2 separate regions of the Homo sapiens genome follow, and region 1 is linked to region 2. The links come from fine-mapping of genetic effects on gene expression. A gene starts in region 2. The other region holds a variant in brackets. All regions are shown on one strand. Distances are between the middles of the regions.

Region 1 (12,434 bases), 75 kb after region 2:
GTTGCATACAAATACGTACTCAGGTGTCCGTGAATACATATCACAGCCCCTAAAGCAGCAATGGATGGCTGTTAGAAACAGGTTTAATGTTTTAAATAATTATACATCTTAATTAGATGTTTCCCAAACTTGTCTGAATGTAAGAAACATGGAATTGTGTTAATACGGATTCCCAGGCCCTGCCCCAGACCAACCTGAATTGGAATCTCTGGTCTAGGGAAAGGGTAGGGGAATAGATTTAACAAGCATTCCAAGTGATTCTTACCATGGGGCAAGTTTTGGGAAACAACTATCTTTATTCCATGCTTAGCTATGAAAAATAACATGAGGCCGGGCGCAGTGGCTCACGCCTGTAACCCCAGCACTTTAGGAGGCCAAGATGGGCGGATCACAGGGTCAAGAGATCGAGACCATCCTGGCTAACATTGGGAAACCCCGTCTCTACTAAAACTACAAAAATTAGCTGGGCGTGGTGGCACGTGCCTGTAATCCCAGCTACTCGGGAAGCGGAGGCAGGAGAATTGCTTGAACCCCAGGAGGCAAACGTTGCAGTGAACCGAGATTGCGCCACTGCACTCCAGCCTGAGTGACAGAGCGAGACTCCATCTCAAAAAAAAAAAAAAAAAGTAACATGAGAGACTTAGATTTAAATAAGCATTCTCCCAAATGTTGACTAGTTTTATCATAATCTCAGCATTATAAGATGTTGCAGAACCATTTATCCTTTAAGATGTTCCTTGGTACTTACCTTAAACTGTGCTCTGCTGATTCACATGTATTCTGACTCATTTAGACTCAGAATAGCCTGGCACTCAAAGTTTTCCTAAATCATGAAATTTTAGCAATAATAACTGTAATGCCTATGGATTTTAAACAGGATTCTATTACAGTAGTTTCAGGTATTTTACTGAATGAACCAACAGGTTTTTTTCTGTCCATTTCTCTATACATAGGAGATTTTAAAAAGGAATCAAAATTCTGCAACATATTTTGATGTTGTTATACACAGGCTTAGCTTGTGAACATAATTATAAAGGAGTATAATTTAGTTCCATTTTAAAAAATAGCATTTGTTGGCTATGCACAGTGGCTCACATCTGTAATCCCAGCACTATGGGAGGCCAAGGCAGGTGGATTGCTTGATCCCAGAAGTTCAAGATCAGCCTGAGCCACGTACATAGTAAGACCTCCTCTCTACAAAAAAATTAAAAATTAGCTGGGCATGGTGGCACATGGCTGTAGTCCCAGCTACTTGGGAGGCTGAGGTGGGAGGATCACTTAAACTCAGGAGGTCAAGGCCACAGTGAGACATGATCATGCCCCTTTATTATTATTTTTTATTTTTATTTTTTGAGATGGAGTTTCGCTCTTGTTGCCCAGGCTGGAGTGCAATGGCGCGATCTCAGCTCACCGCAACCTCTGCCTCCTGGGTTGAAGCAATTCTCCTGCCTCAGCCTCCCGAGTAGCTGGGATTACAGGCATGTACCACCATGTCTGGCTAATTTTGTATTTTTTAGTAGAGATGGGGTTTCTCCATGTTGGTCAGGCTGGTCTCGAGCTCCCGACCTCAGGTGACCTGCCTGCCTTGGCCTCCCAAAGTGCTGGGATTACAGGCGCGAGCCACTGCACCTGGCACATAAAATCATATTTATGGCCTTAATTTTTAAATTGCATGTTTTATTTTAAAGTCTTTATAAAGCCCTTTTGACATTTACCCTTATATGATTTATGACAGTATTTCCCCAAGCATGGAATTACAGGTTGAGTTTTCTGGAAGCAGATGAACTTCCAGAGCTCATCTAGGTGGAGCTTGGGATGCAAGTTGTTAACTAGCAATAAACAACTTGGAAAGGAAGGGAGCAAAAGCAGGGTTGGGCAGAAAATAAGTAAAGTACAAAGCAGGCCTGACAGACTTGTCCACTCCTAGGCGGAACCTCTGGAGTTTGCCAGAGTTGACATGCATCAGCCTAAAATGGCCTGGCCTTTACACCTGTGCCTCTCTTGGTTCCCAGATTCAAGATACCTGTGAGAATGTCATCTCAGATTGGGTGGTTTTCAGCAACTGTAGAGTAAGAAGGAGCTGATAGCTGGAGGCTGTATGCTGACCATACTCCTGGCAGCTGGGCAGCAAGCCTTCCGCAAAGGGAAACCTGCACAGTGTACCTCAGTGCTGTGAGATGGTTTTAGGAAAGAGGCAGATGAATAGTATGCATTTTAATGTATAGAGGCAACATTTAGTAGTTTAAATCCATGATTTCAAGGATTTGCTTAAGGAGGCAGCCAAACTATTCAATATTTTTAAAAGTGATTCATTTTTAAAGAACACTATTAAGTACATAAAATCACAGAAGTAAAAAGATATGGCAAAAATGAGGGTGGTTTTCAAATGACAGAAATTTCAGCAACCCTGCTTGTAAGTCAAAAATCGGACTGACTGTTTTAGTATCAGTTAAAATAAGTGCTTACTGGCCAGGCACAGTGGCTCATGCCTGTAAGCCTAACACTTTGGGAGGCAGGGGTGGAAGGATTGCTTGAGTCCAGGAGTTCAAGACCAGCCTGGGCAATATAGTGAGACCCTGTCTCTATTAAAAAAAAGTTTTAGGCCGAGCATGGTGGCTCATGCCTATAATCCCCAGCACTTTGGGAGGCTGTGATGGGAGATCACGAGGTCAGGAGTTCAACACCAGCCTGGTCAACATGGTGAAACCCCATCTCTACTAAAAATACAAAAATTAGCCATGCATGGTGGCATATGCTTGTAATTCTAGCTACTTGGGAGGTTGAGGCAGGAGGATCACTTGAGCCTGGGAAGCAGAGTTTGCAGTGAGCCGAGATTGTGCCACTGCACTCCAGCCTGGGTGACAGAGCGAGACTCTGGCTCAAAAAAAAAAAAAAAAAATTAATTAAAAAAAATACAAGTGCCTACTGAATACCTTTAGAAGGATTCAAGGTAAATGTTAGCCTTGTATTATATAGAAATTCATCATCAAATGCAAACCTCTTCAGGAAGTAAGTACTTCAAAATTAATAGAACATATTTCTTGATATTTGAATCATAACCTGTTGGCATTAACTTTGATTAAACTACTGCCAAATAAGTTTTTGGTTTTGCTTGTTTTTTGTTTTTTCTTTTTGAGGCAGGGTCTCACTTTGTCACCCAGGCTGGAGTGCAGTGGTGCCATCTTGGTTCACTGCAGCCTTGACCTCCTGGGTCAAGGCTCAAGTGATCCTCCCACCTCAGTCCCCCAAGTAGCTGGGACTAAAGGCGCCTGTCACCATGCCTGGCCAGCGAGGCTCTGTCTCAAAAAAAAGAAAAGAAATATTACTTGTAATAGCCCCTGCTGGTGAAATGCACATATTCCCTTTGCCAGGCCAGTTCACATATTCTGATGGAGTATTGGCTGATAAGAATTCGCAGCAGCATATTTGTACTGAAACTTGCCCTCAACTAACAGCAGCTGCCACATCTGGCTAGGCCTGGAAGCTGAAGCCCTCTGTTTTCCCCACCCACACACCCAACTGCACCCAAATCAATATGAGGGTATCAAAGACCAGTCCTCTTGCCTCAAGGTGACACCAGTCTGTGATGCTCCAGCGCTCCCTGTGGGACCAGGCTGAGGAGAAACTTCAGTTGCACCCACATCAGCATCTTCTATTTCTCCTTCTCTCTGCTACTTTCCTCACTCCCTTATGAGTTTCACCTGAGCAGCACGTCCTCAATAAGCCACTTTCACAGGAATCTCATTCTCAGGCTCTGTTCCTAGAGAACTGAAATTAAGACATTTCCTCTTCCACAAAATTCTCACTGAGCAGAAATAACTACTGTGATTTTTACAGTTATATTGAACAGAATCATAGGGTTGTCTTGTTCCGGAAAGTTCTCACTAAAAGAAGGCCTTCAAGTGATATATTAAGAATGTATTAGGCCATGAGCTGTGGCTCACGCCTGTAATCCCAGGACTTTGGGAGGTCGAGGCGGATGGGTCATGTGAGGTCAGGAGTTTGAGACCAGTCTGGCCAACATGGTAAAACCCCATTTCTACTAAAAATACAAAAATTAGCCGGGTATGGTGGCAGACGCCTGTAATCCCAGCTATTCGGGAGGCTGAGGCAGGAGAATCGCTTGAACCTGGGAGACAGAGGTTGCAGTGAACCAAGATGGTGCCACTGCACTCCAGCTTGGGTGACACCCTGTCTCCAGGAAAAAAAAAAAAAAAAAGAATGTATTATTTTGGGCCAGGTGCAGTGGCTCATGCCTGTACTCCCAACACTTTGGGAGGCTGAGACAGGTGGATCACTTGAGATCAGGAGTTGGAAACCAACCGGACCAACATGGTGAAACCCCATATCTACAAAAAATACAAAAATCAGCTGGGTGTGGTGGTGGGCACCTGTAGTCTCATCTACTTGGGTGGCTGAGGCAGGAGACTTGCTTGAACTTGGGAGGTGAAGGCTGCAGTGAGCCAAGATTGTGCCATTGCACTCCAGCCTGGGTGACAGAACGAGGCTCCATCTCGAAAGAAAAAAAAAAGCCAGGCACGGTGGCTCACGCCTGCAATCCCAGCACTTTGGGAGGCTGAGGCGGGTGGATCACAAGGTCAGGAGATCGACACCATCCTGGCTAACACAGTGAAACCTTGTCTCTATTAAAACTACAAAAAATTAGCCAGGCATGGTGGCGGGCGCCTGTAGTCCCAGCTACTCAGGAGGCTGAGGCAAGAGAATGGCGTGAACCCGGGAGGCGGAGCTTGCAGTGAGCGAGATCAAGCCACTGCACTCCAGCCTGGGCAACAGAGCGAGACTCTATCTCAAAAAAAAAAGAAAGAAAAAAAGGAAAAAGAAACATTGTATTCCAAAAAAAAAAAAAAAAGACAGAGAGAGAGAATGTATTATTTTTTCATTAAGATACCTACCCATTTTGAACATTTTTGCATCATTTTATAGAAAGCTTCTTCAATGTGTCAGCCTTCATTTTGAGAGAATTAAGAATTCAAGTCAGCTCCTTCCTTCGTTCCTTCCTTCCTTCCTCCCTTCCTTCCTTTCTTTCTCTCTCTCTCTCTCTTTTGTGATATGGGCTTGCTCTGGGCCCAAGCAATCCTCCCACTTCAGTCTCCCGAGTAGCTGGGACTTCAGGCATGCACCACCACCTCTTGCTAATTAAAAAAAAAATTTTTTTTTTCAAAGACAGGGTCTTGTTATGGTGCCCAGGAGGGCCCACATCTTTTTCTCCAATGTCTTTCTTCTATTCTAGAATTTGATTCACATATAGATGCTGTTTTCCAAAGGTTGTACTTATTTTTATTTTATTTTATTTTTGAGATAGGGTCTTGCTTAGGCTGGAGTGCAATGGCATGGTCATAGCTTACTGCAGCCTTGACTTCCCAGGATCTAGTGATCCTCATGCCTTAACCTCCTGAGTAGCTGGGACTACAGGCACACGCGACCATGCCAGGCTAATTTTTAATTTTTTTGTAGAGACAAGGTCTAACTATGTTGCCCAGGCTGGTTTCAAACTCCTGAGCTCAATCAATCCTCCCTCCTCGGCCTCCCAAAGTGCTAGGATTACAGGCTTCTCAGTCACACTACCAAATTTTTCTTTTTTTTTTTTTTTTTTTTTTGAGACAAAGTCTGGCTCTGTCACCTAGGCTGGAGTGCAGTGGTGTGATCATGGCTTACTGTAGCCTCGGACCTCAGGCTCAAGCAATTCTCCCACTTCAGCCTCCTGAGTAGCTGGGACTTGCCACACCCAGTTAATTAAAAGATTTTTTTGGAGAGATGAGAGCTCACTATTTTGCCCAGGCTGGTCTCAACTGTCAATCTCAAGCAATCCTCCTACCTTGGCCTTCCAAAGTGTTGGGATTACAGGCATGAGCCACCATGTCCAGCCTAGTATCATTTTTATTTTGCCTAGATACCCCTTTTTTTTTTTTGGACAAGGCCTTACTCTGTTGCTCAGGCTGGGGTGCAGTGACACGATGATGGCTCACTGCAGCCTTGACCTTTCAGGCTCAAATGATCAATCTTCCCACCTCAACCTCCTGAGTAGCTGGGACCACAGGCACGTACCACCACACCCAGCTAATTTTTGTATTTTTGTAGAGACAGGGTTTTGCCAGGTTTCCCAGGCTGGTCTTGAACTCCTGGACTCAAATAATCCTCCTGCCTTGGCCTCCCAAAGTGCTGGGATTACAGGTGTGAGCCAATGCACCTGGCCTATACTTACGTTTAAATGCACCATTGTGTGATCCAAGGAAAGATACTCATGAATATTTATATTCTTGCCTCTGCTTCCAACAAACGTAGCTACTCAAAAAATACTACACATTTTATATTTTATATATTTTTAGCATGGGTTTCTAATCACAATGAACACAATTTCTATTTTTATGTTTAGTTGGCTGAATTAACACTTATCCATGAATTATAACTGCTAAATTGCTAATAATCTCGCTAGAGATTTTTATTAAATAATACTCCTGTGGCCTATAAGGTTCAATTAAATAGAGAATGTCATTTCTAAAAATGCCTAATTTTCAGGAAGAGTATTATGTAAAGGAAAACATTGTCTCAACATGTTTGGTAATTTCTTTTTTTTTGAGATGGAGTCTTGCTCTGTTGCCCAGGCTGGAGTGCAGTGATGCGATCTCGGCTCACTGCAAGCTCTGCCTCCCGGGTTCATGTCATTCTCCTGCCTCAGCCTCCCGAGTAGCTGGGACTACAGGTCCCGCCAACACGCCAGGCTAATTTTTTGTATTTTTAGTAGAGACGGGGTTTCACCGTGTTAGCCAGATTGGTCTCGATCTCCTAACCTCGTGATCCGCCCGCCTTGGCCCC[C/G]CAAAGTGCTGGGATTACAGGCGCGAGCCACCGCACCCGGCCATTAATTTCTAAATTTAATTACGCTATCAATAGTTTATTGGAAAACATTTGCTTATTTATTTGTAAAGGCAAAGCATTTTTACTTAAAATAGCAATGCTAAAATTGAGAGGTTGGTGGATATCATTGAGGCAGAAAGGAGAGGAATGAGAGAGATGGCAGGTCAAATTTAGGTAGGTTAATTTATTTAACACCATAGGTTATAGTGCAACATTAGATAATATAAGGCATCTCATTTCAGAAATTGACACAAGTTGTATTTAAATAATTTATAGTTTAATGAAATGTGAATCTGGAAATCTAATATCCTTAGCAAATGACCTAGGAACTCTCTCAGTTTGTACTTTTCTCTTTTCACTCTAACACTGGCTTCTATTTTGCACATATCCTTATTTTACCAGCCTTAAACTTTGTTCTGTTCAGTGGATCTCATTCTATAGTCCCTGGAAATTTTATCCCTTTCTCTACCCAACTTAACTTAAGCCCGCTTTGTTTGTTTGTTTGTTTGTTTGAGATGCAGTCTCGCTCTGTTGCCAAGGCTGGGGTGCAGTGACACTATCTCGGCTCACTGCAACCTCTGCCTCCAGCCTCCCAAGTTCAAGTGATTCTCCTGCCTCAGCTTCCAGAGTAGCTGTGATTACACGCCACCATGCCCAGCTAATTTTTGTATTTTTTGTAGTGACGGGGTTTCGCCACATTGGCCAGGCTGGTCTCCAATTCCTGACCTCAGATGATCCTCCCACCTCGGCCTCTCAAAGTGTTGGGATTACAGGCATGAGCCACTGTGCCCAGCCTAAGCCTGTTTTTCTATATTGGTTTTTTCCTTTTAAGATATATATATATATATGTGTCTGTATATATTTATCCTACAAAAACTATTCAAATCAAAACAAAAATGTTTGTCAATCCAATACTCAATAAGCAACATTTAAATAAAAACATAATTACTTTCATTGTTTATTTACTTAAAAATATTTATTTTTTAAGTAAATGTTTATTTACAGAAAAATATATAGTATTAACATGGACAATTAAAAAAAACATACATATGTATGTACCCATCACTCAGATTAAGAAATAGAATATGGGGCCGAGCATGGTGGCTCACGCCTGTAATCCCAGCACTTTGGGAGACCAAGGTGGGTGGATCACCTGAGGTCAAGAGTTTGAGACCAGCATGGCCAACATGGTGAAACCCTGTCTCTACCAAAAATTTAAAAATTAGCCAGGCATGGTGGCGCATGCCTGTAATCCCAGCTACTTGGGAGGCTGAGGCAGGAGAATTGCTTAAACCCCGGAGGCAAAGATTGCAGTGAGCCAAGAATGCGCCATTGCACTCCAGCCTGGGAGACAGAGCAAGACTTCATCTCCAAAAAAAAAAGAGAAAGAAATAGAATATTGGAGTAACATAGAAGCCCTCACCAATTGCAACTCTCTTCCTTCCCCAAAGATAAACATTACTCTGATTTTTGTGTTAATCAGTGCCTTGTTTTAATTTATAGATATGTCACCTATGTTCCTGTGTAAGCAAAGGGTGACTGGTGTCACTATCAGATTTTTAAAGCCTTTCAGGAGAAAAGAAACTGATCATAATCTGGCGTTAGGTTCCCGGAGAGTTAATAAACAGTCTTTTTTTAGGGAAGTCAGTGAGCAGGAGCCTTCAGGAATCCTGGAAAGCCTAGGACTCAAGCAGACTTTGAGCACCTGGACCAGATTCTGGATGTTTGGCAAAAATATGGTCAGAGAAAATGGACTGTTCTGTGTTTTCTGCTTCTAAACCCATCATAGCTACCTCTCGTTCTCAGGAGTAAGTCAAACCAGAAATCTGTGGGGTGAAGCAGCAGAGCATGGAGGGAGAATAGGAACTTCACAAGCAAAGTACACAAAAGATTCTGAACATGACTCATAGGGAAATTCTGTCTTCAGCTAAAAAGAAGATAAATGGCAATAGGGATCTTGGTGATGACAGCACTCAATCAGCTTGTCTCTTGAGTTGCATGGCTCCAATCTGGACTACTTGCCTTCTATGTCTAGTCTGCAGCTGTCATTCTGGGATCTACCACTTGGGGAATGCCATCTCTATCCTAGTGCTTGTTTTTCATCGCCCACATTTTATCTTTACTGGTTTCTTAATGAGCTGTTTCTCCAGTAGCTTGTTTCTTAAGTAAGGTGGGTGGCATATTTTTTGAGACATATACATCTGAAAATTAAAATTGCCTAGCAGCATGGAGACAAGGAGATGACCTAGGGATATAACTGCTTTTCAAACAGCTTTGACCTGGCCAGAGTGGTGGCTCATGCCTGTAATCCCAGCACTTTGGGAGGCTGAGATGGGCAGATCACCTAAGGTCAGGAGTTTGAGATCAGCCTGGCCAACATGGCGAAAACCCATCTCTACTAAAAATGCGGGCATGGTGGCGCGCCCCTGTAAATCCCAGCTACTCGGGAGGCTGAGGTAGGAGACTTGCTTGAACCCAGGAGGTGGAAGCTGCAGTGAGTCAAGATGGTGCCACTGCAACCCAGCCTGGGCGACAGAGTGAGACCCCATCTCAAAAATAAAAAAATAAAAATAAAGCAAGCAGCTTTGACCTGAGTCCTTATTTTAGCTACAATTCTACTTCTTTCCTTATTTAATCATCAGTGTCACAGGTATTTTGGTGTTGTCTTCCCATGTTTTTTGGGCATTCTGAGGTGTAAATCAGCTTGGTCCTTGGTTGTCCTAGAGGTCATTTTGGAAAGTCAGTGGGCAGGAGCCCTACAGGCAGTCCTGGAAAGCCTAGGACTCACCAGACTTTGAGCACCTGGACCAGACACTAGATGTCTGGCAAAAATATGGTCAGAGAGAGTGAGTTTTATAATTCAGTTGCAATTCATTCCCCTGCCTTTCAGCTTACAAGTTTCTTGCTCTTGCTTCCTCTCCTGTTCTGTCTGTCCACAACTCCTTTTATTGCAATTTGGGTGGGTTTCAGGAAGGAACAAAGTTAGATACATATGTGTACACACACACACACACACACACACACACACACACACACACACTCACACACACACATTTTAAAAATTTTCCTAGGGATGGATTGCTGTGATGCCCAGGCTGGTCTTGAACTCCTGGCCTCAAGCAATCCTTCCATCTGAGCCTCCCAAAAGCTAGGATTACAGGCATGACCCACTTCATTAGGTCTATAAAGATATGTTAACTCACTATTTATGGGTTAGCAAAACTAGAAAAAAGTGATAAAAATTAACAATGACATTTCCCAAGGATCTATACTAAAACTAGTCATACTGAACATTTAACAAATTTGAAAGAGTGAAGTTTGTAAACTCCTTCAAGCTCTTTCTAATATTGAAATGTGAGTTACAGAGCTGTACTTCAGGAACACTCTACTTAGTGAAGGGGCAAAAAGTGGCATACCATCGGTAGCCCACCTCTGGGCCTCCTTGGGATAAAATAAAGAGGTGACCCTAGGACTGCTGCATGCTTCTGAGCACCCTATCTATTTCCTCAGCACTCATTTCTTCCCCACCAGCCCTGCCCTTAACTCCAAAACTCCCTCCCTAGTGCGTTGTGGAATTCAGGATCAGACATGAACAAAATCTTTTTTTTTTTTTTGAGATGGAGTCTTGCTCTTTCACCCAGGCCGGAGTGCAGTGGCACTATCTCGGCTCACTGCAAGCTCGGCCTCCTGGGTTCATGCCATTCTCCTGCCTCAGCCTCCCGAATAGCTGGGACTACAGGTGCATGCCACCACGCCCGGCTAATTTTTTGTATTTTAGTAGAGGAGGGGTTTCAACACCATGTCGCCCAGGCTGGTTGTGAACTCCTGAGCTCAGGCAATCTGCCTGCCTCGGCCCCCCAAAGTGCTGGGATTACAGGCGTGAGCCACCGCACCCAGCCAACAAAATCTTCTATAACCTAAGTTCTTTGAGTTTTCTCTGAAAATTCTCTAAAAATCTTTCTTCATCTTGTTCTAACTCAAGGGTGTCCAATCTTTTGGCTTCACTGGGCTGCATTGGAAGAAGGATTGTCTCAGACCACATATAAAATACACTAACACTAGGCCGGGCACAGTGGCTCATGCCTGTAATCCCAGCACTTTGGGAGGCCGAGGCAGGCGGATTGCCTGAGCTCAGGAGTTTGAGACCAGCCTGGGCAACACGGTGAAACCCCGCCTCTACTAAAATACAAAAAATTAGCCGGGCGTGGTGGCATGCACCTGTAGTCCCAGCTACTCAGGAGGCTGAGGCAGGAGAATTGCTTGAACCCGGGAGGCAGAGGTTGCAGTGAGCCAAGATCGCACCACTGCACTCCAGCCTGGGTGACAGAGCGAGACTCCATCTTAAAATAAAATAAAATAAAATACACTAATACTAATGACAGCTGATGGCAAAAAACTCTCATAATATTTTAAGAAAGTTTACGAATTTGTGTTGGGCTGCATTCAAAGCTGTCCTAGGACGCATGTGGCCTGTGGGCCACGGGTTGGACAAGCTTGCACTGATACTTGGTTTTCCCCTGAAACTTGAGAGGAAACGGCTTTCCCTGAAGCCCTCTCAAGTGGTGTCTGTTTCCTCTCCCACACCATCATATCACTTGTAACTTCCCATTGATCTGGCCTTCTTTGATCCTGGCCTCCATTGGCCTCCAATCAATAAGGCCTCCATTGATCCTGGCCTCTATCATTCATGCCCTGTGGAGTCACCTCCCTCAGTGAATCAGAGCTGACTGACCCCAATAGAATGCGGTGTAAATGATAGTCTATAACTTCCAAGGTTAGGTCATAAACGGCACTGTAGTCCTCACCTTGGTATCCTGGATTACCTGCTCTGAGGAAAGGCACTGCCATGCAATGAGGACTGAAGCAGCTCTGTGAAGATGTCCATATGGAGAGGAATTGAGGTCCCAAACCAATAGCCAGTACCAGGTGCCCGGCCATGTAAGTGAGACACCATAGAAGTGGATCCTCCAGCCACTATCAGGTCTTCTGATGACTGGATATCCACTTGATTAAGGGCAACCTCTGAAAGCCCATGAGCTAGAACTGAGGAGCTGAGCTGCTCCAGGTTCCTGACCCACAGAAACCATGAAATAATGAATGATTATTGTTTTCAGCCACTAAGGTTTTGGGTGATTTGTCATGCAACTATAGTAGCTGGAGCACCAATGGGCCCAAGAAAAAGTGATTGTCTTCTTTTTTCCTATTACTTCCAGACTCTTTTCCTTCACTCTTCCCTAACACTCTATCTTTGAATTTCATGTCAGAACACTATGCCACCAGTTGCCTTTTCTTATTGGAGTCATCTATAAACTCACAATCCATGTTCCCTTTTTCATTGAAGATTTTTGCTCCTTGCTCATGTCGCTTTCTTCTACCCTACTCTTTCTGCACTTGGTGATTTCAATAGCCACTAAGGTTATACTTTCAATTCCTGGTTTCTTAGTGCCTTGTCCTCTGCCCCAACAATCTGAACCACCACTCCTGTCAGCCACCCACTCTCATGCTCATATCATAGAACTTATCATTATAACTGCAATTTGTCCACAATCTCAGTTTCAAGT
Region 2 (12,434 bases):
AATACTGAAATAAATTTTATTATAAATTACTTCCCTTTTATTTTTCTTTTATATTAGAGAGAACAGTACATTGATTTTTTAAAAAAACTTATGGTGTAAGGTTATATTTTATATGAATTCATCTCAACACAGCAAGGGCACATTACAAAGTATTTGTTAAAATTCACTATCTCAATCAACAAACCACAAATTGTTTCACAGAAGGAAGAAGTATAAACTGTAGGTTTATAAAAGGTGTCAAATGCTACGTCAGCCTGACTAGCTTTTGGTTTTGCTGAAAAACAAAACAGCAATAAACCTTTAAAAAAAGTTTTGTTTTGTTTTGTTTTTTAAGACCAGTTTTCGCTCTGTTGCCCAGGCTGAAATATAGTGACAAGATCATGGCTCTCTGCAGCCTTGAACTCCTGGGCTCAAGTGATCCTCCTGCCTCAGCCTCCCAAGTAGCTGGAACTACAGACTTGCACCAGCATGCCTGGCTTTTTTTTTTTTTTTTTTGAGACAGAGTCTCACTCTGTCGCCCAGGCAGGAATGCAGTGGCACGATCTCAGCTCACTACAACCTCCACCTGCCAGGTTCAGGTGATTCTCCTGGCTGCTTTATTGTTTGTAGAGACAAGGTCTCACTATGCTGAGATGCAAAAAGCATTCCTTTTGCCCCTTCCCAGTCCATATGCTGTCAGAGGTAACCACTGTTCGGAGTTTTTAAAGTTTTGTTTCTGACTGCAGAATCTTACATTTTAATTTTATTTGGTAAAATGGCTCCCTTTACTATTCCAATTAGTAGTCAACATTGTTCCATATTTATATTACTGCTACCTACTTTCCCATCTTAGTCACGTATTCACATTTTGTTAAAGACATTTTTTATTAGAACTAATTTGCACCTCTTTACTACAATTGAAGGCTAAATGATTTGGTTTTATTATACTTTCCATTACACTGCCTAATTACATTGCCACCTCAGTCATGGTTATCTGTGGCATACCTTCTTGCTTGAAATCGCCTTCCCTAGAGAAGAACAGATAAAAATATCACCCACAAATTCAAACTACAATGTCCCTGGTTCATAAAAACAGCCAACCTCAAAAGTAAGCAACATTTCCTAGTATATCTCAAACTTCTACATGTGCATATAAATTACATTCAGTAGTTAATAACCGGAAATTTATCTTCTATGGAGGAAAGACATGCCAATACAATGGAAAGTCCTACTGCTACTACTAATAAAAATACTCATGGTAAAAATATGAAGAAAAACCAGCTAAGTTTTAAGTTTCAATATGATAGGCAACATAGGCAACAGTGTACAATTTTAAATATTTGACTGGCTTCGTGTTGGGACTTCCGCAGTTTCCAATTTTAGATATTTCAATTTACTGTTTACTTACCTCAATATACAATAGAATACTTAGCAAATAAAATTTCATACAAAAGCCACATAACCAGGACCACTGTTTCGTTTTTACAGGCCATTCCAAATTAAGAGTCAGGACTTTAAAATCGACCACACTGTGCACTGTGGTACAAGTTTTGGAACTCAAGGCGCTTAACTTATTTTAAACCTATACTGTTGTAGGTTCAGTATCCGAACAAGCACAAGTAAGATTCACACAACTCATTTGTTGAGTGTCTTAAATACAGACTTAGAAGCAAAAAAAATTAAAAAGTTTCATCTCATCTGGGAGTTAGTTCATTTGTTAAGTTAAAGGGATTATTCCTGTGAAATCATCTTAAAGGTTTACAGTAAAGAACACAATTCTAAGCTCCCAATCATAAGAAGTAATAGGAACTTCACTGGCATAGTTACTGGCATAAAGGTACAGATTCAATAGTTGTAAGTTTCCTCTAAATTCGGCCAGTTATTTCTAGGGATCTGCCTTCATCAGGTTACATGTAAATACCCATTTTAAACAGAGATAATTGCTCCATGAATATATTAATTCAAGGTAGATTGTGAATAATATGACTGTTCAGCTTCATTTCTATCGCCAAGTTATGTATCAGAAAGAACATCACAGCCTATGGAGACTGAACTAGATTGAAGATTTTGGATCTAAACATACAGAATAATTTCCTGGCAACCCCTTCGTAAATCCATGGCAATTTCAACACTGGGAACTCTTCAGCCTCATTTTTCTTACTTAACAGAACATGACAAACAAGTACTGAGTGCCTGACAATGAGTACAAAAATGAGTAAGAGTCAGCAACCATGTTCAAGAAGTGCAGTATATGCCGCGTTCAGTGGCTCACACCTGTAATCCCAGCACTTTGGGAGGCAGAGGTGGGTGGATCGCTTGAGCTCAGGAGTTTGAGACCAGCCTGGCCAACATAGTCAGACCCCCGTCTCTACAAAATATACAAAAAATTAGCAAGGCGTGGTGGTGCGCGCCTGAGGTCCCACCGACTCGGAAGGCTGAGGCGGGAGGATTGCTTGAGCTGGGGAGGCAAAGGTTGCAGTGGGCCGAGATAGCGCCACTGCACTCCAGCCTGGGCAACAGAGCCAGACCCTGCCTCATTAAAAAAAAAAAAATGAAAAGAACAAAACAAAAGGAGTGCAGTATAGCAGAAAAACAACATTCTCCAAATATGTTGGATTGTATCTGAAATAGCCAAACTTCCAAGATCATGATTCAAGTGGAGCAAATACTTCCTATACCCGTCAATTATATTTCCCTAACTGGAACTCTTTACAACTTGATGTGAAACAATGCAGGTACTGTGAATAGTTCATGGTTCTTAAACTTTAAAGATTATTAGTACAAAACATACAATTCAACATTAGAATAAATATCCAGTATTTAAAGGAAAATTAAAGTAAGGAAACATGTTACAGACCTAAGACCAAATTAAACTTTCTTGGAATCTCTTCAGGAACCTCAAATACCGATACACAGAGGTAATATTTAGGTCCTTGTTTGGGGCAGTATGAGATTACGTTGAAAGTGACTTTTATTTCATCCTCAAAAGTGCTATTGAATAGTTGGAATGACTTCGTTAACTTAAAACATAGTTACGACTTCTTAATCGACTTACAACAACAAACTATGGCATCGCAGAGAGCTTTTTAACGTTTATGAGCTTCATCTCTTTGAGGGTAAAGACAAGCTCCAAAACGGCTTGAGACAATGCTTCGGAAAAATGTTACGTAATTAATACATTAAAACTATACAACTTAATGGTAAGGAGACATTTCATAAAAACTTAACCAGTCGATCCAAAATAATTCCTAATTTTACGTAAGAGGCAAACGGTGAAAGACCGAACATTAACTTTGCCAATCACCTGAAAGGAGCAGCGTGGTAGAACTACCCAGGACCGCCTCAGCACTCAGGGGCAATAGTGAACTACTGAAGCAACAGCTCCACCTACTGATCCACCCTATACTTCCTTAAATATGTTGGCACCCCAAGTCTACAGTGATCGCGCTCTCTCCCCCTCCTCCACTCGCTGTGACCCAACCCAAATCTAGTTGAGTCACTAGCTCTTAATACTCATCCCCGTGCTCTTTATTCCAATTTCTTCTTCCTCCAGAAGGTTCTGCACAGCTCCCAAGCGTGAATTAAACTGAAAGGTGTCAAACACCGCAGTTCCAGAGTTGAGTCTGGAGGTGGAAGACAACCAAACCACTCCACCTGGAGCTGCGGGCCGGCGTGGCTCAGCGGTCCGCTCCCGGGAAGGAGGCCCCGGGCGCTTCACAATAGCCTTTCCATGTTGCCCCACTCGGTCGCTTCTCCCCACTCAACAACCCACACTCGTCTCCGAACCGAAACCCTGAAGCCCCCCGGGTCTTGCCTCCGCTGGCCCTTCAGCCCGCCAACAGCCCGAGCCTCGCCTCCGCCCCCTCCGGGAGCCGAGGGAACTGAGAAGCAGAGAAATCTCCCTCCGCCCGTCTTCGCCCTGAATCTCTCCTCGCCTTTGCGGCTCTCCCCCTCTACATGGGCCCGGACCCTTCTACCCCACCGGCCGGGCCCTGCCCGGCTGCCCTTCCTCACCCTTTCATCTTCCCCGCCTGCTGAGGCCGTCGTTACCACCGATATCAACGCCGTCGTAGTCGCCGCCCTTAGGTCTCCGCACCCTTAGCTCGGGCCACTCAACCCCGCAAGCCGGCCTCCTAGCCTGGGCAGGGAGCTGTGCGAGCAACGAAGGCCGCGAGAGTCGAGTGAGGGCTTGAGTCTGGTGGGGGCGGGAGTGTCTCCCGCCGCCGCGCTTGTGCCGCCGCTTCTCCACACGTGCACTCGGGTCTCTCGGCTCCCTCCCGCCGCTGCCGCCAGCCAGACCCGCTGCCGCGCTGTGACCTTTCACCCCGCCCCTCGCGCGCCGGCGCGCCGCCGCCTCACGCGCAGCCGCACTGCTCGCCTCCGCGCACCCTGCCCCCTCCACTCCGGAACCTCCATCTTTCTCCTGGACTGGGCCTTCTGGGGTCATGCTCCTCCCTCCCACCCGCTTACGACACTGCTTGTGGGGCTGGCTCGGTAGGCCCTGGCGGTAAAATCCAGATTTTTCCACCCCTCCCTCTCTTGTCCCATATCCGCAAGATAGTTTTTCTCAGCCCCGTTCTTCCCAGTTTGTGGTCTCCAGAGTGACCTTCAAACGCTGTTGCCTCCTAGTAGGGTTTTATAAAGTTAGTTCTTCTAAATGTAAAGAAATCTGTGGAAAGCTCAAGTTTAAGTTAGGTGTTTTAAAACAAACGTAGTTAACAATCGGCCAGATAGATTGGCTACCCTCCAGCACGCCTCAAGTTTTAAGATCACGTGATTGGCCCAAACCTCAGAGCCTGGAATTTTACCGGCGGACTCCAGAGGGACGGAACGCCACCGCCATTTCCTGTCCCTCGATTGTGGCGTGAACGTCACTTCCTTAGCAATGCGCTTTAACTCTTGCTGTCCACATTTTCCACATTGTACTTTATAACATACTCTTTGTGAAAATTTATCTTTTATTTCTTTAATCCAAGAAAATTAATATTCAAGGGATCCGTAAAAATTCAGGCCCCCCGAGATGTAGAGCGCTGGGATGGAGGAGGCAGGGCGGAGCTCGACGTCATGTGACTGGTTGGGCCCGCCCCCCCCCCCCCCCCCAACCTGTGCAGCTGAGGACTTCCCCTCCGTGGTGACAGCCTCTGGGTCCTCGGTCGGTACAGTCTCTGCACCTCGCGCCCCAGCAGGTGAGCGGCGACCGGTAACTGGCGAGTGGTGGGGATAGAGGGGGTGGAAGGAGGCAGAGGAAGGAGAGAAGGGAGAGTGTGAACGGCGACTTTTCTGCCTGAGGCTTCCTCCCCGCTGTCACCCTGCACCGGCAAGGAGCTCATTTCTCCTTAACCCCCGCTCCCCCAAGTGTGGTCGTTCCCGCTACTTGGGGATTCAGATGTCCACCTTTCCCAGGGTTGGAAGTGAGTGCGGCCATTATGGTTCCCTACTCAGAGCCTTTGGGGCTTCGGGTAGCAGATTGTTTCAGCCATTTCACAGGGTCTGCAGTAGACATTAGGTCCCATTCCTTAAAGCCCATTCTTTGGCAAAGGTCCTCACTGTCCTTACCCTCAGCTCAGGGCTGAGGAGCGGGGAGGTAGCAAAAACCCTGGAGGCAGAGGCGTCTCCGGTGAGACAGGCTTGGGAGGGACTGTCACTGATACGGCCCTCACTGCAGAGTCACTGTGAAGCTTCCCTCCGAATGTGCTTTCTCAGTGATTCTAAGGATTTTATCTGACATACCTGCAGGGAAGGTTCCGTAGATGTTCACGTGCTTCGGATGGGACTAGAAAAGTAAAAGAAGGGCTTTTACTTTTTCTTCTCTGCAGAGAGGACAGTTGAAGGAATACTGTCTTCAAAACAGGAGGTGTTAGTAATGCGACAGTCTCGATTGAATGAGGAGGCGTTGAAAGATGGTATTGTGGTGTTGTGGTGTGCAGGAGGCCCAGGCTGGTTTAGGGAAGAGTGAGTAGGGTTCCCTGAAACCGAAATAAGAAACTGATTGGGTTGGAAATAGTTAAACCAAATTGATTTGGCCATATGCTTAAAGGTAGAATCAAGTCGAGATGTTGCTGTCTGCACATGTTTTCTGCCGTCAATCCTTCCCTTTTTGTCATTTTCCCCTAAAATACTACTGAATTGGCACTCCCAATCTATTCCTTGATCGGCTTTGTGGTAAATTTAGGTTAAGTAGCATTTGTATCCCTCTTTAGCTTTCCCCATTTGTAAAACTCCCGGTGCCCTCTTCAGATTTTGATGAATAGTATTTTGTGAAAATACAGAAATTGTTGTCCAATTGAAAATACAGGTGTTGTCCAACCCAAGTACTCCCATTCCGTCCATAATGTATTATTACCAATGTTTTGATCCCAAACAATGTGCTTTAGGGAAGAATGTTTTTCAGTTTGTGGTTAAACTCTTTTATTTATACTGCAAACTCAGAAAATTCCATGCTGCTTTTCAATTGAAGGTCTTACGAATATTACAAATTTGATTTTTAAAATTTAAATTACACCTTTCTTAATATGAAAAATTATATGCTCAGTTAAATCTTGTAGTTTTCTAACTAAGGTAATTAAAGAAGACTGCTGGAAAATGAGGAAGATGGAATCATCTTTGGTGGATGTGACTGATTTATTTTTGTTTTTCTGTGTCTTCCAAATTCTATACAATAAACGGTCTTATTTTGTTAAGGAGAATAAAAAGTTAAAATTCTACAATAGCAGCAGTTTAACAAAGTATTTTTATAGTAAGTGCAAAATACATAACCTAGCTTATTGATGCTCCTTAGTAGAAAACATAACCTCGGAGATGTTGCTTTCCCCAAGTAATGAAGATTACTACTATCTCTTGTGGATTTACCATTTTAGCATTTCGTACTTACGACCCATACTGGACAATAGACTAATGTATTGATATATTTATGTCATCATGCCTGCTGTAGATATATATATGTAGTTTTATCCATTAATTTTCTCCATAATAAGGTTCCTTGATCTCTAGAGGAGAGGGGAAGAAAAAAAGGAAGTGTTACTTCAGTGACCAGGTGACATTGCACCACGTAAGGAGAATTCCTTATGTGGTCTGGAAGTCCTAACTAGTCCTGTCTGGCTGAGACCAAAATGTGAAAGAGAAAACCAGCTAGAAGCATTGACTACTAGAGGGGAAAATGTCAGTATGAAAGTGGTTGGATGAGTCTGCAGTTTTACTTCACAATTCCCCCAGTTTTAGGGAACTCGTGAAAGCAATAACTTAGACCACTGATGAAATGTAGATTAGTAGTGGGAATTGGTGATTACATTGCTAGTAAGGTTAAATGTGAAAAAAAGCTTTGACATTATACACAGATCACACACACACACACACACACACACACACACACACACACACACGATTGGAAGCCTGGAAAACATTTCTGAGACTAGCCTTATCAGTTTATGAGTGTTACATGTAGAAATCTTAACATTTATTAGGGAATTGTGCTATAGTCCACTATTAAATAAAGCATAAGGGTTTGGTTTTATTTTAGGGCCCTTGGCACTTCTGGTTTTCTTTTCCTGAGTTCTTGTTTTCAGTGCCTTTATAGATTTTTGCCACCACTAAGAATGCTTTCTTCCCCATGGGCAGAGGTAGCCACTCAGTCCTATAGACTACTACTAATCATCATCATCATCTTTTCTATTCTTCTACTTGCACTTCTAGCATTGTATTTAATTCCTGTTCCCTGGGCTCTTCCTCAGCAAATCATAAAGCTCTCAGGACTGTGAACTATAATACTATTGTGTCTTCAGCACCAGAATACTGAAGTACCTGATAGGTACTCAATAAATTATTTATTGAATGAATGTTGGGCAATTAGACAAAGAAATTAAACCACTTTAATTTTTGCAGATCATAGCTCTTCCTAAAGTTGTGCACTAAATGTTAGCTTTTAAATATAAACTGGTAATAACCTTCCAAATTCATGGTCAATACAATAGATAAAAACCTCAGATGGACTTTATTAATGCTGAGACCAACTTATTTTCACAGCATGTTTGTTTACTAATAAGTATGGTTATCATCAAAATATGGGAGAGAAGGGAAGAGGAATGAATCGTACTAAATGAAAAAGTGGCTCTGCGTGATCTATAAGTGGACTAGCACTAGACTAAAAGTCAGAGGATCTTCATTCAGCTCTGCCACTTTAGTTATATGTCCTTTTACGTAATGCTGGGGAGGGGTTCAGGTTTGATACTTAGGAACCTTCCTATGACATAAACCCTAGGTAATCTATGTGAAAATATCTTAAAAACTAAGTGGTGTCTGTAATCCCAGTGCTTTGGGAGGCCAAGGCGGGCAGATCACAACGTCAGGAGATCGAGACCATCCTGGCTAACACGGTGAAACCCTGTCTTTACTTAAAAAAATTAAAAAAATTAGCCAGGCATGGCGGCACGCGCCTGTAGTGCCAGCTACTCAGGAGGCTGAGGCAGGAGAATCACTTGAACCCGACAGGTGGAGGTTGCAGTGAGCCAAGATCACACCACTGCGCTCCAGCCTGGGCAACAGAGTGAGACTCCATCTCAAAAAAAACAAAAACAAAAACAAAAAAAACTAAGTGGTGTGTAAAATGGTAAAGCAGTGTAGCTCAGACTTTACATGAATTGATTTCCCAGTCATAGAGACCTAGTTGAAGTTCTGGCCCTACCACTTAATAACTGTGTGACTTTGGACAGTGTACTTAAGTAAGGTTAAGTTTTCTCACGTTTAAATCTATAGATGGTGCTATTAAGTTAGATCATGAATGTAAAATGCCTAGAACATATTTTGTAAAAAAAATTTTTAATTAATTTTACTGATAACTACTTTGATTTTATATACTGAATTTCTAAAGACTTAAGACAACCCACAGAATTGACTGATGTCCCTGTGAGCAGCAGGTTTGGGGCATGAAGAAGAGAGTAGAATTTGAAAAGAAGCTATTACCCAAAAAATGGGGGAACAAGAAAAGTGTACTTGTAGCAAAGATTCTAAAACAGATTTATTAATTTTATCTGAAAAATATCAAGATAAAGTCCCTTATTTGGGCAACTGCAGTGTCTTAATATTTTCTATATAAAGATTTTCCAAAGCTTGTAATCATTAATGTATGGAATAAATTTAAGGAGGCAGTTCTTCAATTTTGAAGTTTTTATTCCTGCAATGGATTATAGAAGTATATTAAAATTGTACAGATTGTAGAGCAGGGACTTTTGAGTTAATGCTTATAAGCTTAAAAATTTTGTCTTTTTAAAAAAATTAAGTGTTTTTATATCTTATTTTTATCCTTATATGAAATAGACAAAGAAATGTAGAGAACATAATGGAGACATAAACTAGAGTAAAATTCTTCCCTTCTTAAATTCATGATTCACAAGGGTTAGTAGTTTTGCAATGGAAAATATCAGCAAATTAAACAGTAAGTATAGCTATCATGAGTTTATGAATCACTTTATTCCTGAAAAAAAAAATTACTCATTTGTCTTAAGGAAAGATTTTATTAAGTTTATTGACTTTTCCTTAATGTTGATTGTCTATTATAACAAATGGATTTATTGATTTAGGAATGAATTTATTCTTTATACTAAGTAACTTTATTTTAAATAAATGAAATGTGAGCAATAAAAATGTTTTCCATATAATTTCTGAAGAGAATATTAGTTTTGCTATTCTCTTTTTTCCCTATGGTGAAATGATAGCGACTTTGGTTTTTATAAGTGTATTCATTTATATTTAGTATATACATATTATGTATATACTATATATAGAGTAAATATTTGTAGTATATAAAGTACGCAATGTGTGTGTATGTATATATAAAGACAGCTGAAGTGGTTGTGTATCTTCGTAGTAACATATTTATTTTTACCTGAAACTACTGAAGTGATCTTTAGAATAATGATTTATTTACATTTGAAACTCCTCTTTCTGTATATTTCTTTGTAGTTAGCTCTAGTTAATAAATTTACAACTGTGATTAGCTGTTTTTAAAAATTAATGGTATATCATAAGTATTTTCAGATTTAAATTTTAGAAGGAAACACTTTCTTATATCTTAAGGTTTTAAAAATCACTATTATTTTTGGTATTATTATGACTAACAACAAAAATTTCAGTTTTGGATCTTAATGCTATCTGTTGAAACTGTTCTCTTGGTAAGCCTTTAAAAAAATTTTATCTGCAACATGCCACATTTTGTTTCTTTTCTGAAAAATAATTAAGCTTATTTCACTGAAAATAAAATGGGTGGTATATGATATGATATAGAAGAGTTTCAGATGTGCTTGAGCAATGAAAAGCAACCAGACTTTATAAGTTTTTAGTTCTTAGTTTAATTTTTTTAATGTTTAAAGGTACAATAGAGAAGACTAATTGAATTGGAAAATACCTTTAAAATTGAAAAAAGAGCATATGTATAATAATAATAGTATATACATATGGAAAAAGTTGTAAGGAAATGCATCAAAATAAGTAATTATCTCTAGATTGATGCATTAAAGAAAAAATTAAAATTTATTACTATACCTTCTGTATATTTGAATTCATAATGTCAGTAGGCATTGCAAAATATTTCTTAATTTGATATGGAAAATTAAGGCACCTAAATAATTCTTTCATCTTAACTACTTGGATATCTTAAGTGAAAATGTTTTGTCTCATCCAGGTAGCTGAGTAAGTTATTTAATTTTATAGGTGTGTAAATATATTTTTAATTTTAAGTATATAAGTGCAGCAGAATTTTAAAAAGCAGAGTAAATCTCAGTATATAAGATAATTTACCACATTTCAAAGGGATAATTCAATCCAATGGTGAAAAAGGGCACATATATATCATAAATGTTAACTGATACAACTTGCTCATCTAGAAGAAAATATAATTGATCCAATACATTGCAACAGATGCAAAAACTGATTTCAGATGGATTAGAGGCTTAAATGTAAACAATAAAATATTTAAGATATTAATCTCCTAAATTTCCTTTATACAAACAATCCAGATGTAGTTTTTTAAACCAAGATAGGAAACCTAAAAGTCATAAAAGTATGGATAGACACATGAGACTGCATGGAAACGAAGGATTCTTTAGTGGCAAAAATAAAGGACCAAAGACAAAATCAGGCGGAAAAAAAGGCTTGAGATATATGTAACAGATGAGTTAACCATTGAAAGAACTCTTTCCAATTAAGAAAAAGTTCACCCAGTAAAAATATGGATAAAACATGTCACCAGAAGTTCACAGAAGAGAAATCCAAACATTCAACAAACAGTAAAGGATGTGTAACCTTACTAGTAATCAATATACTAACAATGAAATATTATTTCTCTGACAAGCAAAAATTAAGTGGTAAACCTACTGCTAGCAGGGATATGTGGAGAAGGATTATCTCATAAAATGCTAGCGGAGATGTGAAGTGTTAGAGTTTTTCCTAGTAAACAATCAAGCAACATCAGTTAATACTGAGAATACATGTATTTTCCACCCATCAGTCTAACTCCATGTAATCTTTTCCTTAGAAATAAAAGCACCAGTAAGAGTTTACAGGAGTGTTAGCTGCAACAGTGTTTCAATTTTCAATGTTAGTAGTGGCAAAAAACGTGGAAACAAAGGGAATGCCTGTTAATAGGGGTATTGTTATGTAAATTATGGCCGAGGCATTTTATGGAATGTTGTGAAGTGATTAAATGGTAGGAGTTAAATCTACTGGTGATTAGAAAGGATTTCCAAGTACATTCTGAAAGGATTTCTATCATGTGTCTTTTTTTTTTTTTTTTTCCTGAGACAGGATCTTGCTCTGTTACCCAGATTGGAGTGTACTGGTGCTGTCTTGGCTCACTGCAACTTCCTCCTCTTAGGTTTAAGCTATCCTCCCGCCTCAGCCTCCAGAGTAGCTGGGGCTACAGGTGTGCACCACCACACCTGGCTAATTTTTTGTATATTTGGTAGAGACGGGGTTTCACCTTATTGCCCAGGCCATCATGTATCTTAAGAAAAAAAAATACAAAGTACAGAGAAACATTTGTAATGATAACTCATTTTTTATAAAACCAGTTGAAAAACACCATGAGTTTTGTATATTTTTACCTGGTTGTCACCGTTGGAAAGAGGAAATAAGCAGAAAAGGAAAGAGACAGAATATCCATAGTAACATATTTATATAAAACTACATGTTTGTACATGTCTGTGTATATGATGGATTATGGGAAACAATGGGCACTAAGATGATTTACTTTCTTCCTTACACTTTACATTATATGTTTTTATTTTTACAGTGGACATGAAGTGTTTCTGTAATTAGGAAAAACAGGCTGGGCATGGTGGCTCACGCCTGTAATCCCAGCACTTTGGGAGGCTGAGGCAGGTAGATCGCTTGAGCCCGGTGTTGGAGACCATCCTGGGCAACATGGCAAGACCCCCCTCTACCAGTAAAAACTAAAAATTAAAAAA

The links. PIP is the estimated chance that this variant, and not a neighbour inherited with it, causes the effect.
Region 1: its variant is fine-mapped to the expression of ATP6V1A in whole blood (INTERVAL, PIP above 0.99).

The regions. Positions count from the first base shown.
Region 1 is chr3:113,816,469-113,828,902 of GRCh38, forward strand. It overlaps a transcript of GRAMD1C not described here. Among named protein-coding and RNA genes, the nearest start is that of GRAMD1C, 16 kb to the right of the region's middle. The variant C/G (reference allele first, on the strand shown) is at 6,835.
Region 2 is chr3:113,741,949-113,754,382 of GRCh38, forward strand. ATP6V1A (ATPase H+ transporting V1 subunit A) reads left to right here and starts at 5,087. Exons shown (of 15, transcript NM_001690.4): 1 at 5,087-5,165. It overlaps NAA50 (N-alpha-acetyltransferase 50, NatE catalytic subunit), which reads right to left and starts at 4,301. Exons shown (of 5, transcript NM_025146.4): 1 at 3,994-4,301. The coding sequence starts at 4,001. RefSeq lists enhancers at 3,145-3,881, 3,485-3,634, 3,882-4,617, 4,618-5,353, 4,675-5,044 and a silencer at 4,205-4,324.